2 linked regions of the Homo sapiens genome follow. The protein of the gene in region 1 purifies or fractionates together with the protein of each later gene. This does not show direct contact. Each region holds a gene or a part of one and is shown in the gene's direction. Other genes may lie near its edges.

The links.
Region 2: the proteins of TAFA1 (region 1) and PLXNA1 purify together in Homo sapiens (affinity purification with mass spectrometry; one large-scale study listed by BioGRID and IntAct). This does not show direct contact.

Annotation. Positions count from the first base shown.
Region 1 is NC_000003.12:68,539,090-68,542,841, forward strand, and holds part of TAFA1 (chemokine-like protein TAFA-1 isoform 1 precursor), read left to right. Parts: intron 1-3,752.
Region 2 is NC_000003.12:127,017,615-127,021,429, forward strand, and holds part of PLXNA1 (plexin-A1 precursor), read left to right. Parts: coding exon 1-50; intron 51-134; coding exon 135-278; intron 279-679; coding exon 680-914; intron 915-2,587; coding exon 2,588-2,730; intron 2,731-3,815. UniProt on the Homo sapiens protein: Coreceptor for SEMA3A, SEMA3C, SEMA3F and SEMA6D. Necessary for signaling by class 3 semaphorins and subsequent remodeling of the cytoskeleton. Plays a role in axon guidance, invasive growth and cell migration.

The DNA of each region.
Region 1 (3,752 bases):
CTGTCACAGACTCATAAATTAAGTTGGGTTTCCAGCCAGAGTGGAGAGGAATCATGAGGTAATTATTCGGATAATTCATCCAACATTTATAATGCTCAGAATGATAATCAAATGAACTTCCTCCCTAATTCATCCAGATGGTTTGCTGAAAGGGTCTGCGTTTAAGTACACCTACAGAAGCCATTTTCTAATGTTCTTTAAAAGAGTTCTGTGATGATCCGTCAGAGAACTGAAAAGGGTTTTGGGGAGTGAATACATCATTCTTTGATTTCTTTGGTTAAATCAGGAGTGATCTTCTAAATAAATAACAATCTTCAGGGTGGGGTAATCCAAACCATCAAAATTGGCACCCTTATGCTGGAGCAGGGCAGAAAGGCCCAGCTAGCTAGATATTAACCCTGTAGTTACTGGACAGCCTTGGAATCCTAAAGGGGACAGGGGTGGGAGATGCTCCGGATGCTTAAGATAGTAATTATATATCCACTAATAAAAAAGTATGTCTATTTGACAAGTGTGGTCATATGTATGTGTATCAATTGAGTATCAGCCCTGTTTCTCTCTCTCTTTGTCTCTCTCTGTGTGTGTGTGTGGGGGGGCATGGGGTGGGTGGGTGGGTGTGTGCATGTGTGTGGTGGGGGGAGGGGGTGCATGCCTGTGTGTGTTTTAATTTACAGGAATTTTTCTTGAGAGAGGGGGGTCTCACTCTGTTGCCCAGGCTGGAGTGAAGTGGTGTGATTATAGCCCACTGCAGCATCTAACTCCTAGCCTCAAGCTATCTTCCTGCTTCAGTCTCCCAAAATGCTGGGATTACAGGCCTGATCCACCATACCCAGCCTGTGGAGTATTTTTTAAAGCAAGCTCCATCGGTTACAAATCCCAGTATGCTGAAGTTTTATTCTACCAAAGGTCTGATGTATTTGAAAGGATGTCTCTGTTTCCCACCCCTTATTATTAATCTTGACTTACTCTTTCTTCTCAGCCTCACTTTTTCAGTGAATAAAATTGGTTCTTTCGTCTTTGTGATGCAGAAGACAAAACTAATGCTACATAATACTATATAAAACTTATTTTTCACATATAAAATAGGTGAAAACATCTTGTGTATCAAATTTCCTTGCCTTTTTTGACCCCCTTGACCAGTAGTAAATGGCTATACATTTCCGGCTTGCGACCAGGAGGAACCTCTGAACCACCCTAGCTTGCTAACATGCATCTGTCTGTGCCTGAGTAGCTTAATGTGGATTATCCTGTTTCATTTTAATGAAACACCTACAAAAGACATTATTCAGAAATAAGCCTGGTTCATGCAACTTATCCACAGAGACCATTTTAATTAACTAGTAGAAGGTGGGAAATCAGGTTTCCCTTTGGTTACCTTTTGCCTAAAACTGATTCTTCCCAATAATTTGAAGTTGCCCTCACAAATTGGTTTGTTTTAAGCTATTCTGAATTATGGCCAGTATGATTGGAATCTAACCACCTTTGTTTTAAACACATTGCTGATATATTTCCTGCCAAATCTCTTTTCTCTATTCTAAAGAACTGATTGCCTTTTATTGAAGGCAAGTCTTATTCTCATGGTGTCTCCAGACCTGAAACACAGTAAAGAAAAATAATTCAAGTCAGGATTTAAATATGTGAAATTCCAAGAGTACCAACTAGGAGACTCTTTGGAAGATAGAATATAAAACAAACAAAACAAAAAAACAGAAACATAGATTGTTAATGCTACTTTTTTGAGACCAATGTAACTTTCTTTTATTTGGCCTCTGTAGAGTACATTTTAAAACCATCAGGCATGTTGCAGATGCACCCTAGACATTTTCCAACAACACAGGAGTATTGTGCAGGATCTGATCACAGTACCAGAGACTGGAGCACACCATTTGCTACCTCCCTGGGTGGGCTGAATTCAACTCAAGCAGTTGAATGGATGAGATAAACAAACTGCCATTGCAGTCGGTTTGAAAGCAGAGGATGTACCTGTTCTGACGTATACATCCTTTTCAAGCAAGGAAATAGGAGGCCACTCTACAGCCATGTGAGCTGCACATCAGTCAGCTGAGAATTCTCAAGTCTGTCCTTAGAAAAGGAAAGAGAAGACACTGGAAAAGCTGTACTTTTTAAACCTTCAGAGGACTCAAATGCTCTTACTGACATACGTCCTCCCTCCTCCCTCCTTCTCAAGAAATTTGCAATGAAATAAGCACTTTTAAACACAAGGAGCACCAACTAAGTCCAGATGATGTATATAGGAACCATCTATTCTGTGTAAATGGTGTGTCAACGCCAGTCCTTAGATCATCTGCTCTGAAAATATGTTCTGTATTAATTTTTCTTCTACATCTTATGTATTCTTCTCCATCAGAGCACAAATATGCTTACTCACTTCAAATATTGATTCTAACAATTTAACTTTAAGAATGGTTTAATTCACAGATGTACTTTAATTATTATGAGTCACATGTTTTCATTGTTCTGCTGTTATCAAAGAGGTAAAAAAAAAAACAAAGAAATTTACCTCTTTTGTTCTTTTTTGTGTGAGAATAATTCAAAGACAGTTCACTCAGGATAAAAATAAAGTTGGGGAAACACACTCAGATTGTTAATAGCAACTGAGAGTTTCCTTCATACTGTTATTTTAAAAGTAACTTCAATATAAAGATAATCCAGGGAAAGGTTCCTGGGACTTCATTCTCTTTCCTATAAAAGACTGTTCCAAACCTTCATCTTTTGTAGGTTACTTCCAAAATAATCATCCTGAACAAAATTCTCTTCGAAATGTGGTTAAATAATGTTTCAAAGTCTGATCTAATTTAAAACTTTATGGTGTTCATTTTTTAAGGAAGGTGAAGAGTAGAAATGTGGTGGTTCATCTAAACTACCAGACACCCCAGAACGTCTGGAGTAGCCCAGGTAACAGGCCACAGTCTAAAGAAAAACCTCAGGAACAATGGATCTGAGTGATATTATTACCCCAGAAGGAAGGAGAAAATATAGGTGGAATTAGGCAAAGCCTTTTCTTTCAGGAGATTTGGAATAACTTTTTAAGAGAGGAAGACTCCTGGATGCCACCCTATAGAAAGGAAGTATTCACCTTGAAAGGTTTTCCAAGACCCAGCTTGGAGTAGAATAAATCTGGCAACACACACACTTCTGGGGAGAATCTCAGTACATCTGGGTGAAGTTTCATGGCCAAATTATTCCTCTGCGTCTGCTTGATCATTGCTTCAATTGCTTTATTAAATAGCTTTGTTGGTACTTAGGAGCAAGACTAACCAACCAAAATATTGACTAGAGATTTTATTCTTGCAGTTTTAGACACCTATTTATTTACGTCTTTTCTTTAAACTATATCAAATACGTAAGTTTGAAAGTTGGGGAGGCTCTATCCCATGTATTCAGATACATGTCTATACCTTTTATATTCAGGAACAATGGCTTAATTTAGAAAGACAGACTTCCCCTCAGAGATGTAAAACTGAAAAGTATCTGAGACAGGTCTTACTCAATTTAGAAAGTTTATTTGGCAAAGGTTATGAATGCATGACCTAGAGGTAGGTCTGTGCCTTTCTCCAGAGATGATTTTGAGGGTTTTAATATTTAAAGGGAAAAGGGTGGATATTGGGGAAAGAAGCAAATTTTTAAAGGTGTGGGTAGTTAAGAGACAAATGGTGGTTACATTCTTTTGGTCTTTGACAGCCTTTCACCAAATACACCATTTACATGTGGGAAGGGGGTAGAGGAAGAGC
Region 2 (3,815 bases), about 58 Mb from region 1:
GCCCCACTGGCCTGCTGGAGCTGAAGCCCAGCTCCCCACTCATCCTCAAGGTGGGTCACCATTGCCCGTAGGCTGGGCCAAGCCAGGGAAGAGGCCCCTCGTCCTGGGCTCTGGCTCACCCCCATCTCCTACAGGGCCGGAACCTCTTGCCACCTGCACCCGGCAACTCCCGACTCAACTACACGGTGCTCATCGGCTCCACACCCTGTACCCTCACCGTGTCGGAGACGCAACTGCTGTGCGAGGCGCCCAACCTCACTGGGCAGCACAAGGTCACGGTGCGTCTGTCCACCGGGGGTGCAGAGCTGGGAGAGCCATGCCCCACCTGTGGACCCTGCCCCACTAGCACAGCCCCAGCTCTGACCTTGCCCGAGACTCACCCCTAGCTCAGAGGGCGCCCGGCTCCAGTGCAGGCCCTGCCGTAGCCTTCAGCCTGCCACCTCCTTGAGCCCCCCGAGACTGCCTACCCACCCTGAGCCCTTGCCATGCCAGTGGTGCCCTGGCTGGCCAGGCGCCTGCCCTGGGTCCCAGTGTCTCCACCCTGGTGACCACTCTGTGCCCCTGTCGGTGGGACCTTTCCCACAGGCAGGTGTTGGGGGTGGGTCTTGCCCATCGGGAGGGGCTCCCAAGCTTTGTGGAAAGCATGGGAAGCTCCTGAGTGGCCTCCACCCACTGGCAGGTGCGGGCAGGTGGCTTCGAGTTCTCGCCAGGGACACTGCAGGTGTACTCGGACAGCCTGCTGACGCTGCCTGCCATTGTGGGCATTGGCGGAGGCGGGGGTCTCCTGCTGCTGGTCATCGTGGCTGTGCTCATCGCCTACAAGCGCAAGTCACGAGATGCTGACCGCACACTCAAGCGGCTGCAGCTCCAGATGGACAACCTGGAGTCCCGCGTGGCCCTCGAATGCAAGGAAGGTCTGTTGGGGCCAGGGCTCACTGGGGCAACTGCCACCTCCGAGCCAGGCCCTGGCCTGTCCCCACACCTACTTCCCACCGCCGCCCCCACCCTGCTTCAGCTCAGTTTACAATGTTCCTGATAGCCTTGCTGTGCCAGAGCTGGTCCCAGGGCAGTGGGCGGGTGCCTGACCAGGGCCTGGCCCTGCAGCAGGTACCACCTCCTTGGGGTGCTGCTTGCGACACAGAACCCAAAGCCAGACTGTTTGCATTTGTATCCCAGCTGGGCTATAAGGCTGAAGGTGGCTACTTACCCTTCTGTGGCTCAGTCTTGTCGTCTCTAGAGTGGGCACAATGACAGTGCCTACTTTCCCTGGGTGCTGGGAGTCGTGGTGGGTTGGCTGGTGCCAGCGGAGCAGCAGAGAGGGGTGCTTCCACCATGCAGCAATGGGGAGCCCTTGCGCTTTGGCAGTCCCTGGGCACATAGAGATCTTGGCCTGAGCTGACCTTTGTCCTTGAGATGTCTATAGGGGGAGTCATGCCACACCATGCTCCTGATCAGGGCAGGTGTGAGTGGCAGAAATCTGTTCCATGCCGGGCGAGACTTTGAGCGTTTGCAGATAGTAACTCACACATGTTCAGGGCTCTAGGGGGCAGATACTAGGAGTGTTCCTGCTGCAGTGTAGGACCTTAGCCATGTGGTCCAGCATGGGGTTGTCATGAATTCCACTGGGACTCAACTGGGATGGGGTGTTTTGTTTGCACAGGACTCAGCCAGTCTTAAAATGCAAAGTTCTGCATCCTGGGAGCCCTCTCAGTCCCAGACAAACCTAAGTGGCCCTGTGGTGGGCTGAGGGTCACCCTACCTCTTGGGCAGCCCTGGTGGGACTGGAGGCAGGTGTGTGTTGGGGCCAGGTGGGAGGCAGGTGGCCTGGACCTCCCTTGTGCTCCCGCCTGCTGAGGCTGGCTGTCTGGCGAGGCTGGCGTGTGTGGATGCAGTGGCTGGTGGCTGCTCCAGGCCAGCCAGGTGCAGATAACTAGACGCCTGGCAGCGATGCCCAGGAGACGAAGACTCCAGCTCTTAATTAAACCTGTCAGATGTCCCCCAGAGCCTGCCTGGCACTCCTTTGGCTTCTGATCAGATAGCCTGATCCTCGGGCTGCCACAGGACTGACACCTCACAGCTCTGGAATGTTCTGTCAGGGCCTGCCTGCCTTTGTTCCTGACAGAGGCAGAGCTGGCCCTGAGCAGGGTGGGCCATGTTGAGGGTGCACCAGGCCCGAGATGTGCATGCAATGGTGTGGGGGCTTGGGGACAGCCTGCAGCCCTGGGACCTCACCCCTGGCCGCACTCCACCACCTCACAGCGGGTGGAAGGAGCCCGAACTCCAAAGCTGCTCTACGCTTAACTGCCAGTGTCTGAGATGCAGGAGGCCCTGCCCAGCCTGCCCCTGGTGCTGATGCTTTCTCTGCCCTTGTCTTGCTTGATCCTGTGGGAACCTTGCAGAGGAGAGTTACTATCCCTGTGCTAGGGCTGTAGTAGCTGGGGGACGAAGAGGCACAGTAGTTTCCTTAAGATCACGAAACCAGTAAGTGTCAGAGCCAGGATTTGATGTAGGCCCCAAGAGTGGGAGGGTTGGGGCATGGAGCGGGGCCACCAGGGCATGCTGCCCCTGACGCCGCATCTGGCCACAGCCTTTGCAGAGCTGCAGACAGACATCCACGAGCTGACCAATGACCTGGACGGTGCCGGCATCCCCTTCCTTGACTACCGGACATATGCCATGCGGGTGCTCTTTCCTGGGATCGAGGACCACCCTGTGCTCAAGGAGATGGAGGTAGGACCACTGGCTCCGGGGGGTCACAGGAACTCAGAGGCAGCTGCTATCTTCTGCCTTTGAGGCTCCTTGGGTGCTGATGGATGGTATGGGGCAGCCTGTGTGGCCTGGGGGAGGGTCCAGGCCTGCAGGGCTCTGGGCTCAGCCAAGTGGGGAGCAGGTGCTGGGAGGCAGAACCAAGACCAGGCAAGCACAGTGGAGCCCTGAGCCCTGGGGTTGGGGCAGGGGAATGGCCAGCACGGCTCTGCTCCATAAAGTACCTCCAGAGGGCAGGAGGAGGCTCTGGCCCCAGGGCCTCCGTGGGATGCCAGGCCTCATCCCAGCAAACCACTTGTCAGCCTGGGCTTCTGGCACCTCCCCGGTGGCTGCCCCTTGGGCCCTGCCTCTGTTGGGGGTCCCGCCTGCGGCTCCACTGGCCTGGTCTCCTGGGTGGCTCTGGATGCGAAGCCTCGCTGGGCAGGGGCCGTGTGCTGGGAGGTGCGGGTGCCTGATGAAGTCTGCTATGGCGGTTTGGGAGGGGAGCATGTGGCTGGCATAGCACCAGGGTCTCAGAGAGTAGGGCTTTGCCCCGTAGACCTTGGCAGCGAGCCTGGCGAGGGAAAAGAGGGCTGGCTCCCACACCCCTAAAAGGCCCCCAGCGGCAGGCAGGCTAGGAGCCAGTCCTTGGCGAGCCACGGCCAGGGGCTCGGCAGGTTAGCTCAGTCACACTCTCCAGCTGAGGGCACCCCCCAACCGTGTGCCTTGGATGTTGGGGAGCCCATGTCCCTTGTGGTGACTCTGTTGGTGGGAAGTCCCTTTTGAGCTGATACTGAGCAGACCTTCCCGCCTTGGGCCCTGGGCTGCCTGTGGCTGAGTGCTGCCATCCTGTTCCTGGGCTTGCTGCCACACGGGGCTACACAGCCTCCCCAGGTTGTATCTCTCTTTCAGTGCCTCCATTTGCTGTGTCTGTCACACTGTCTCTCTCAGCTGTGACTGTGTATGTTCTGCCTGGGCCATTACCTGTCTGCCTGATACCTGTTGGCCTTGGCTGGGAGCCTGGTATCACTGGTGGCCTCTGGGCTCTGCCTAATAGGGAACATATTGCC